Regions from separate parts of the Homo sapiens genome. Here region 1 is linked to region 2. The links come from fine-mapping of genetic effects on gene expression. Tissue or cell type: putamen. Region 2 holds a variant in brackets; the other region holds the start of a gene. All regions are shown on one strand. Distances are between the middles of the regions.

Evidence for each region. PIP is the estimated chance that this variant, and not a neighbour inherited with it, causes the effect.
Region 1: it holds the start of CEACAM16-AS1, and the variant in region 2 is fine-mapped to the expression of CEACAM16-AS1 in putamen (GTEx, PIP 0.96).

Annotation. Positions count from the first base shown.
Region 1 is chr19:44,722,900-44,728,326 of GRCh38, forward strand. It overlaps CEACAM16-AS1 (CEACAM16, CEACAM19 and PVR antisense RNA 1), which reads right to left and starts at 2,284. Exons shown (of 2, transcript NR_186815.1): 1 at 1,938-2,284.
Region 2 is chr19:43,754,994-43,760,420 of GRCh38, forward strand. No RefSeq gene overlaps it. Among named protein-coding and RNA genes, the nearest start is that of SMG9, 2.7 kb to the left of the region's middle. The variant T/A (reference allele first, on the strand shown) is at 2,294.

The DNA of each region.
Region 1 (5,427 bases), 970 kb after region 2:
TCAGAGCGCATGCCTGACCCAGCCTGGGGTCAAGGAGGGCTTCCTGGAGGAAGGGACAGCTCATCTGATACCTAGAGGATGAGTGGGAGTTACTAGGTGTAAATAGTGCAGGGAGAGGGAAGAGTATGTGCAAAAGCCTAGGGTTGAGAGGAAACCTAGGGGCTCCAGCAAGGCGCAGTGGCTCATGCCTGTATTCCCAGCACTCTGGGAGGCCGAGGCGGGCGGATCATCTGAGGTCAGGAGTTCAAGACCAGCCTGGCCAACATGGTGAAACCCTGTCTCTATTAAAATACAAAAATTAGCCAGGCGTGGTGGCGTGCACCCATAATCCTAGCTACCTGGCAGGCTGAGGCACGAGAATTGCCTGAACTTGGGAGGTAGAGATTGCAGTGAGCCAAGATCACGCCACTGCACTGGCGACGAAGTCAGATTCCATCCCTCTCTCTCAAAAAAAAAAAAAGCTGGGGGGAGCCTAGGGGCTTCTAAATCCGATCGTGTCCTGGCCCTGATTAAACTCTCCTACAGCTGCCCTGGCAAACTCTTTAGCTTGGCATTCATTCATTCATTCATTCATTCACTCATTCATTCCATAAACATTCCCTGGAGTGCATTGTCAGTGTCAGGCCCCAGGGGAACACAGCAGTGACCACGACAGCCCCACCAGACCATGACCCTGACCAGGGGGCTCACGAGGGCGGAGACATCTACTCCAAGACCTGAAGGAGGAGTAGGAGAGATGCTGGGGAAGAGGCAGGGAAGGGTGTTCCTGGCAGAGGGAACAGCCTGTGCGAAGGCCTGAAGGTAAGTTTTGCATATGACACCTTTGAGAAACTACTTATTGTTCAACTGAAGCATAGGGTTGTTCAGAAGAAGCCAGCCTTGTGGCCGGGTGTGGACTTCCTCCCAGGGCACCAGGGAGCCACTGCAGAGTTGTGAGCAAGGGACAGACAGAGGTAGGCTTGTACTTCCAAGAGACTCCCCCAGCTGCCACATGCAGGGTGAATGGAATGATGCACAGAATCCAGTTTCAGGGGTAGTTTGGTACTTGGACCCAGGTCCCAGGGAGAGAGTCCAAGGAGCCCTTCTCTGGTCTTCCAAGGAGCTGCTCTCCCCAAGCTCCGGATGGAAGGCGTGCCCATGGCAACCGCTAGGTGGTGCCCGTACACCACCAGCCAGGTCTTTTTTTGCCAAAAGTAGATCAGGCCCAGAGCTGGGCAGAACTGCCCCTGGGTCAGGAGAGCAAATCGTCTCTGTCTTTTGGTCCTGGCTCCCTGGCCAGGCATCCTGGGGCCATTTGACTCCCAGGCTCAGGAAGGAGCTGGCTGAGCTGCAGTGAGTATGTTCTTCGTCTCTTTCCTCACCTTGGAATCTCAGACGGGAGCACCCTGGCTCCCACTTCAGACAGGAAGATTCTTACCTCCCTCATCAGACTAGCAGGCTCTTTGTCTCCCCACCAGTTTGAGGGGCTCCCCATTTCTATCATTCATTTGGAAGCTCATCAGCTCTCCCAGAAGGCATGGGAGCCCTTCAACACCCCCATCAGACTAGGACTACCCATCTCCCCCATCAAATTAGAACTGCATTGTCTCACACATCAAAGTATCACTCCTGGCCAGGTGCAGTGGCTCCCGCCTGTAATCCAAGCACTTTGGGAGGCCGAGGCAGGAGGATCACCTGAGGTCAGAAATTCAAGACAAACCTGGCCAACACGGTGAAACCCGGTCTCTACTAAAAATAACAAATTAGCCAGGCGTGGTGGTGTGCGTCTGTAATCCCAGCTACTCAGGAGGCTGAGGCAGGAGAATCGCTTGAACCCAGGAGGCACAGGTTGCAGTGAGCCAAGATCACACCACTGCACTCCAGCCTGGGCGACAGAGCGAGACTCTGACTCACAAAAATAAATACATTGTCTTACACATCAGAATGTTGCTCCTTACCTCCCCTGGCAGACTGGAAATATAGACTGGACACTCGTTCTTGCTGCACAGGACTGGAGCTTCTTATCTTCTTCATTGGATTTGGACAGTCCTGTCTCCCTCATGGGATTTGGTGAGAGCTCCTTAGTTTCCTTATTTTTCCCACTGTGTTGGGCCACCTTGTCCCCACCATCAGATTGGGGAACACCTTGTCTCCCAGTCAGACCAGAGGGGCGGACTCCTCTGCCCTTGCAAAGGTTCCTAGGTCCTTCTTACATCCATAGGAGGAACCATGCCTATTTTACCAAGAGGGAAACTGAGGCACAGAGAAACAAAGCACCACTTCTCTGTCCAGCTGCAGATGCCTCCACCTCCCCCTCCGCCCGCTCCTCTGCCCCTGCCCTCCCCCGCCCCCGCCCCTGACCTGGGTAACTCCCCTGGCACCGGGAGTAGGGGAATTTTGCCCTGCTGGCCTCTGCACCAACCACCTCCCCTTATCGGCAGCGTCGCCACCAGTGGCGGCCCAGGGTTAAAGTCCGGAGAGAGCTCCGGGCGCGAAGCGGATAGGGAGGGAGGAGTGGCGCCCAACCCAGAACGGGGACTCCCCGGAGGTCGAGCCCTCACGCTGCTGGGAGGAGAGGGGATGGGCAGGGCCGTGTCCCATGGTAAGGTGTGGGTTCAATCCTTCCTTTCTAGTTCCCGGCTGTGTGGTCTTGAACCTGGAACTTCACCCCAACTGGGAGCCTCAGCTTCTCCAGCTTTAAGGAGTCAGGGGCGTGAAAATGTCCAAGCTCTGGAGTCAGACTCCAGGAGTTTGAATGCTGGCTCCTATAACCTGCTGTGTGAGATCTGGGGCCAGCGAGTGTGTCTCTCTCAGCCTCAGTTTCCCCAGCTGTGCAATGAGGATACCTAGTGGGTGGTGGTGAACGCTCCATGAGTTTACGCACAAGAAAACCTTGGGACAGTGGCTGATAGTGGCGCCAGCAAGCCAGCATGCACCCCACCCTTTCCTTCCAAGAAAATTGCCTCCTAAATCTATGATTGGTAACCTTCACCCCTCCCTCTTTGACCCACCTCCTAACCCAGGCCACCTGGTGTCTTGCTGCACAGCTGGTCTCCCTGCCCGCACCACACCCAGAGGCGTCCTTGGAAACCCAACCCTGACCCCTGGTCAGAATCTGCCATGGCTCCCCAGTGCCCCCAGGAGAAAGCCAAGTGCTGTGCCACAGCCACAGCCTGACCACTCACTGCTTGTATTTTTTTTTCTTTTTCTTTCTTTTCTTTTCTTTTTCTTTTTTTTTTTTTTTTTTTAAGACAGGGTCTTGCTCTGGCCCCAGGCTGGAATGCAGTGGTGCCATCATAGCTCACTGCAGCCTCAACCTCCTGGGCTCAAGCAATCCTCCCACCTCAGTCTCCTGAGTAGCTGAGACTACAGGCACATGCCACCACACCTGGGTAAATTTTTAAATTTTTTTTTTAGCGATAGGGTCTCACTCATTGCCCAGGCTGGTCTTAAACTCCTGGGCTCAAGCGATCCTCCCGCCTCAGCCTCCCAAAATGCTTGGACTACAGGTATGCACCACCGCGCCCAGCCTCCTTTCTGGTTTTCTAATAAAGCCTTTTGTTCACCTCCTTCAAACACTTCCCCATGCTCTTCAGGTCTCAGCTCAAACAGGCCAGGCCCGGTCCCCTGGGTCCTCTCTGTCCTCCGTCTCCTGGTTCCCTGTACCTCTCCAAAAGCCCCCACGACCAAAAGAAGTAAAGATGTAGGGCCGGGCGCGGTGGCCTACACCTGTATTTCCCAGCACTCTGGGAGGCTGAGGTAAGTGGATCACCTGAGGTCACGAGAACCGATTGAACCCCAGAGGCAGAGGTTGCAGTGAGCCGAGATTGCGCCACTGTACTCCAGCCTGGGCGACACAGAGAGACTCAACCTCAAAAAAAAAAAAAAAAAATGGTGGCTGGGCAAGGTGGCTTATGCCTGTAATCCCAGCACTCTGAGAGGCCAAGGCAGGCAGATCACTTGAGCCCAGGAGTTCGAGACCAGCCTGGGCAACATGGTGAAAACCCGTCTCTACAAAAAATACAAAACTTAGCTGGGTGTGGTGGCATGCGCCTGTAATCCCAGCTACTCAGGAGGCTGAGGCATGAGAATCGCTTGAATCCGGGAGGTGGAGGCTGCAGTGAGCCAAGATCATGCGACTGCACTCCAGCCTGGGTGACAGTGCAAGACTCTGTCTCAAAAAAAAAAAAAAGTTCCCACTCTGGTCCAGCCACCATCACTGAAGGCCCGGACCATGCAGTCACCTCCTCATGGGACTCCCTGCCTGGGTCCTTGCTGCACCTCCACAAGGACCTGTCTTTCCCCCACATGCAGCCACAGGGATCCTGTTAACACCTAAGTCATCAGAAGGCTGAGGCGGGAGGATCGCTTGAGCCCAGGAGGTCGAGGCTATAGTAAGCCAAGATGGCACCACTGTACTCCAGCCTGGGCAACACAGTGAGACCCTGTCTCTAAACAGTAATAATAATAACAAATTAAATTAAATTAAAACCTGGCCTGGGCATGGTGGCTCATGCCTGTAATTCCAGCACTTTGGGAGGCCGAGGCAGATAGAGTACCTGAGGTCAGGAGTTGGCCAACATGGTACCTGACCAACGTGGTGAAACCCTGTCTCTATTTTAAAAATATAAAAATTAGCTGGGCCTGGTGGCACATGCCTGTAATTCCAGCTACTCAGGAGGCTGAGGCAGGAGAATCGCTTGAACCTGGGAGGCGGAGGTTGCAGTGAGCCCAGATGGCATCACTACACTCCAGCCTGGGCGACAGAGCGAGACTCCATCTCGAAAAAAAATAAAAAATGAAGTCAGATTATCCCTCCCCTGCCCAGAACCCTCCATGGCTCCCATCTCCCTCTGAGTAAAAGCCTATGTCCCTACAGTGGCTCATAAGATCCTGAGCCATCTCCTTGCCACCCTTCCCCTCTCCCCATCCTCCCACTCTCCCCCAGCTCATCCTGCTCCAGCTACACTGGCCTCCAACAGCTGTTCCGACCCACCTCTGGGCCTTGGCACTTGCTGTTCCCTCTGCCTAGAATACTCTTCCCCCAGATGTCCACATGGTTCATTCCCTCCCCTCACTCAAGTCTTAGCCCCAAACGTCATTCCTTGGAGGGCCTCCCTTGGCCACCAGATTTAAACAACAGCTTCCACTTCCTATGCTCCATCTCCCTCATTCCCTCACCAGTTTTATTTTTCTCCATAGCAAATACATACCATTGGCTGTATTTTCCTTGTCTTGTTGACTGTCTCCTGGATGGATGGACGAGTCTGTGGCTCCCCAAGGGCAGGAATCTTAGTTGTTCAACACCAGGGCAGGGCCTGGAAAACCTGTTAGCAGAGTGAATGAATTGTGTGTGTGTTTTGAAAAGGTAAGGTGTTCACAAGTTCCAAAATTCAAAAAGGACCAAATGGCAGTGAGCTGTCACTTCCCCACCACGACTCTGCCCCT
Region 2 (5,427 bases):
GGCGGTCGGCTTCAGCACGCATGCGGGTTCCGGAGCGGGAGGCGGGAGGACGCCGCGGCTCTGACTCAATGCGCGTGCGCGCGGTTGGGGGGTTGAGGGTGGGGAGATGAGTAGGGAAATGGATACGCCGAGGAGCCGGCAGGAGGGAGAGCGGCCCGGATCTGGGGTTCGAGTTGTGCCTCTTCGGTGATGTTGGCGGGATGCAGTGGGGTGGGACGACAGGGAGGAATTTCACTGTTCTGGGCTGAGTGCCAAGAACACATGAATGAATCAGACTTGGCGTGCGCCCTGGAAGACACCCCGGCCTGTGGAGAGACTGCCAGGGCCTCAAATCACTTAGGAAAGGGCGCGGGTCCGGTTGGACCTTGAAGGACAGGCAGGCGAGGGTACTCCAGGGAACAGCTAAGCAAAGGCGGCGAAGACCCCGGGGGAAGAGGTCTAGACTGGCTTGGATTCAGGGTCCACCTGGGTGGGAGGTGAGGCAGCAGAATGGGCAGGTCAGACCCTGAAGGGTCTCCAGTGTCAGTTTTATCCTTAAGGCCTGGGAGATGCAGAATAGTCTGAGACAGAACTATGTTTAAAACCCTCGAAGGCCGCGTTGGAGAAGGGAATCCGCTCCAGGGTCGAAAATTTAAACACACGTGGGCGGAGTCTTGCGCGCGCCAAAGAGGAACATTGGGCGACGGGCGCGGCCTGGAGAGCGCATGCGCATTCGGAAGGGTCGGCAGTTCCCCAGTGGGCAGAGTGGGTGGATGGGAAGGTTCTAGCTTTTTATTTGAAATTTTATTTATTTTTATTTTATTTATTTATTTAGAGACGGAGTCTCGCCCTGTCACCCAGGCTGGCGTGCAGTGGCGAGATCTCGGATCACTGCCGTCTCCACCTCCTGAAATTCAAGCGATTCTCCTGCCTCAGCCTCCCAAATAGCTGGGATTACAGGCGTCCACCACGCCTGGCTAATTTTTTGTATTTTTAGTAGAGACTGGGTTTTGCCATGTTGGCCAGGCTGGTCTCGAACTCCTGACCTCAAGTGATCCGCCCGCCTCGGCCTCCTAAAGTGCTAGGATGACAGGCGTGAGCCACCGTGGCTGGTCTAAAAAAAAGTTTTTTAAAATTATATTTGAACAGGTATTACATGTACATACACAATTCAAACCTCTCTGGCTGTATACAATAAAAGTAAGTTTCCACCTCTGGTTCCCATTTTCCTTTCCTAAAGCACTGGTTCCCGGTTTCCTTCTGGAGCTGCTGTTATAATAAAGCATTGGAGTTAAGAGCATGTGTTGAGTTCATATAAATAGCGGCTGAGCTTGACCAAGTGACTTAATACTCTCTACTTCTACGTCCCTGTTTGTGAATTGGGTGTGGTATAACCTTACTTACAACATTGCCGCCAGCATTAAATGGGTGAGAGTGCATAGAACAGTGCCTGTTGCCTAATGGTACTGTGTGTTGTCTCTGTGTATTATTTTGTGGTCTACCATGCTGATAGTTGTAGATTCTGAGCAGCCCTCTCCCCTCCAGGCCTCATCCCTACTGTCATTGTCCCAGTACCAGTACCAGGTGGAGCCACCTCTCCAGGCTGCCACAGGTAGAAACACCAGTCACCCAGAATGACTTGAGTCCACTGTTGATGGATTCTGGGGAAAGATTCTGGGTGTTTGATAAAGATACACATGACAGGCCATCTCTGTATTATGTCTATCAGTGTCCAATTTTACTTCTTCAGCTCAGGCCATATCTGAATTTCTCAACCCCAGATCACTCACGATTGCCAGTTTCACGTCAGGGCAACCCTCAGAGGTAGAATTTTCTTAAAAGAGGGAAAGAGGAGGCCTGGCATTGACCTTGGACCCACTGTGTACCAGGCTGTGTGCTCTCTGCTTTATATACATCACTATAATCTTCTCCCCTAATTTGTTTAACAGATGTTGGTCCGCGCAGTGACTCACGCTTGTAATCTCAGCACTTTGGGAGGCCGAGGCAGGCAGATCACCTGAGGTCAGGAGTTCAAGACCAGCCTGGCCAACATAGCGAAACCCCATCTCTACTAAAAGTACAAAAATTAGCCGGGTGTGGTGGCATGCGCCTGTAATGCCAGCTGCTCGGGAGGCCGAGGCACGAGAATCACTTGAACCCAGGAGGTGGAGGTTGCAGTGAGCTGATATCGCACCACTGCACTCCAGCCTGGGTGACAGAGTAAGGCTCTGTCTCAAAAAAAAAAAAAAAAAAAAAAAAAAACAGATGTAGACAAATGAGCCTGGAAGAGAGAAGGGCCTTACCGAAGTCCCCA[T/A]AGGCAGGAAGCAGCAGGGCCTGGATTCAAACCCGGGCCTGGATTCAAACCCAAGCCTGTCTCACTCCAGAGCAAGCCTACACTTTTTCCCTGGCACCGGGGAGCCAGCCTGGTGATGAGTCAGCAGTACAGTCAGGCACCCAGTGAGCTGCCTTTTGTATTAGTGGCATGGTATGCTGTTCTGGAGATATATCATACTTTAACACTTTCTCTGTTGATGAGCATTTAGACTGTTGCTGAACTTCTGCTCTTACAAACATTTACTGCAGGGGTTTGTGTGTATGTTTCTGTTTTCTAATTTTTTCTTTTTCAGACATGTTCTTGCTGTCTCGCCCAGGCTGGAGTCATGTAATACAGTTGTGGCTCACTGCAGCCTCAACCTCCTGGGCTTAAGCAATCCTCCCACCTCAGCCTGAGGAGTAGCTGGGACCACAGGCATGTGCTACCACACCCAGCTAATTTTCTATTTTTTGTAGAGACGGGGTTTCACTATGTTGCCCAGGCTGTCTCAAACTCCTGGCTCAAGCAGTCCTCCTGCCTCAGCCTCCCAAAGTGCTGAGATTATGCTACAGTTAATATCCTGGTACACGTGGCTGCATGTATATGTTAGTATTGTCAGTAGACTATCTCATTTGAAGTGCAAGTAGAATTGCTGGGTCAAAGGGTATGCACATTGGGAATTTTGAGAGCCATTGCCAAATGATCTGTTCATGTCTTTATTTTTTGTTTTTGAGACAGGGTCTCCCTCTGTCACCCAGGCTGGAGTACAGTGGCATGATCATAGCTCACTGCAGCCTCAGCTTCCCAGGTTCAAGCAATTCTCCTGTCTCAGCCTCCCGAGTAGCTGAGACTACAGGCATGTGCCACCACACCCGGCTAATTTTTGTATTTCTTGTAGAGACAGAGTTTCACCATGTTGCCGAGGCTGGCCTCAATCAATCCTTCCACCTCAGCTTCCCAAAGTGCTGGGACTACAGGTGTGAGCCACTGCGCCTGGCCCTGTTCATCTCTTTTTCACTTTTTGTTCATTTCTTTCATTTATATGTTGAATGAATTATGGAACTCTAGTCATCTGCCAGGCACAGCTGTAGGCTGGAGATCCTGTAATGAATAGGAAAAGCACCTGCCCTTTGGGAGCAGATATTCTAGTGGGGCAGATGACATCAGATAAAGGATGCTTGGAAGAAAAGAAAATCGGGGGTGAGGATTGGGAAGACATTGCAAAGGATACAAAATTTCATTTAGACAGGAGGAATAAATTCAAGAGATCCAGTCCACAACATGGTAACTATAGTTAGTAACAATGTATACTTGAAAATTGCTAAGAGGATAAATTTTCAGTGTCCTCACCACAAAAATGATAAATATGTGAAATAATGCATATGTTAATTAGCTTGATTTAGCCATTGTACAATGTATAAATATACAAAACATGTTGTACACCATAAATATATACAATTTTTATTTTTCAATTAAAAATAAAGTCAGGTGCCGGGCGCAGTGGCTCACGCCTGTAATCCCAGCACTTTGGGAGGCCGAGGCGGGCAGATCATAAGGTCAGGAGATCGAGACCATCCTGGCTAACATGGTGAAACCCCGTCTCTACTAAAAATACAAAAAATTAGCCAAGCGTGGTGGCGGGCGCCTGTAGTCCCAGCTACTCCGGAGGCTGAGGCAGGAGAATGACATGAACCTGGGAGGCGGAGCTTGCAGTGAGCCAAGATCGCACCACTGCACTCCAGCCTGGGCAACAGAGCGAGACTCTGTCTCAAAAAAAAAAAAAAAAGTCAGGTTACAGGAATTGACAGTGATAGAGGTCACAGAGAGTGACAGGTGGCCAGGGAAGGCCGCTTTGAGGGGATGACATTTGATCAGAGGCCTGAATGCAGTTAAGGAAGGTCAGGAAATGAGCCATCTAAAGATGCTGAAGAACGGCCAGTAAAAGACCCCAAAGTGGGAGTGGGCCTGGCTGTCCAAGGATGGTCAAGGTGGCCAGAGTGGCTGAAACAGAGCAAGGGAGGGAAAGAAGGGCAGGATTATTTAGAGACGGAGCTGTAGACAGGGCCAGTTTACATAAAGTCTTACAGGCCATGGTAAGCATTTGGAATTTACTTCCAAATGTAACAAAGCCATTGCAGGGCTACAAACAAGCACCGGCTTGTTCCAATTAATGTTTACAAAGACTTCTCCAGTGAACAACAAAAATTAACAGTGATTGCCTATAGGGATGAGGGTTATAGACAGATGTGGGTCAGGGCTATGGGAACTTAAAAAGCGTTGTTGTTTTTTTAAACCACGTAATTATTAGCTATGCGCAAAAATGTTCAGTGAAAACAGTGCTGGTTGCTGTGAGGAGAATGGCCTGCAGGGGCGGAAGCAGGAGATGAGAAAGCTGGTGTCCTTGCCTGGGCAAGAAAGGATAGTGGTTCTGGAAGAGGGTGGTGCTAATAGATGAGTTGAGAAGGGTCAGGAACTGGGATCTTTTTTGAAGGTAGCGCCAAGAAATTAAACATGGGGTGTGAGAGGAAGCATGAATCAGGGGTGACTTGAAAGTCATCCTAGAGATCTGTTGTACAACAGGGTGACTCTCATTCATAACAATGTGTTATATGCTTGAAACTTACTAAAATAATAGATTTTAAGTTTTCTCACACCACAAAAAAATAAGTATGTGAAATAATGCATATGTTAATTAGCTTGATTTAGCCATTCCACAATGTGTACATATATTAAAACATCATGTTATTTGCAGCATTAAAAAAAGTTCTAGCGGGGAGGGGGGAGGGATAGCATTAGGAGATATACCTAATGCTAAATGACGAGTTAATGGGTGCAGCACACCAGCATGGCACATGTATACATATGTAACAAACCTGCACATTGTGCACATGTACCCTAAAACTTAAAGTATAATAATAATTAAAAAAAAAAAGTTCGAGAGGTTTTGGTCCTGGCCAACTGCCTGAAGACTGAGACTTTTTTTTTTTTTTTTTTTTTTTTTTTTTTGAGATGGAGTCTTGCTCTGTCGCCCAGGCTGGAGTACAGTGGCGTGATCTCGGCTCACTGCAAGCTCCGCTTCCTGGGTTCATGCCATTCTCCTGCCTCAGCCTCCCGAGTAGCTGGGACTACAGGTG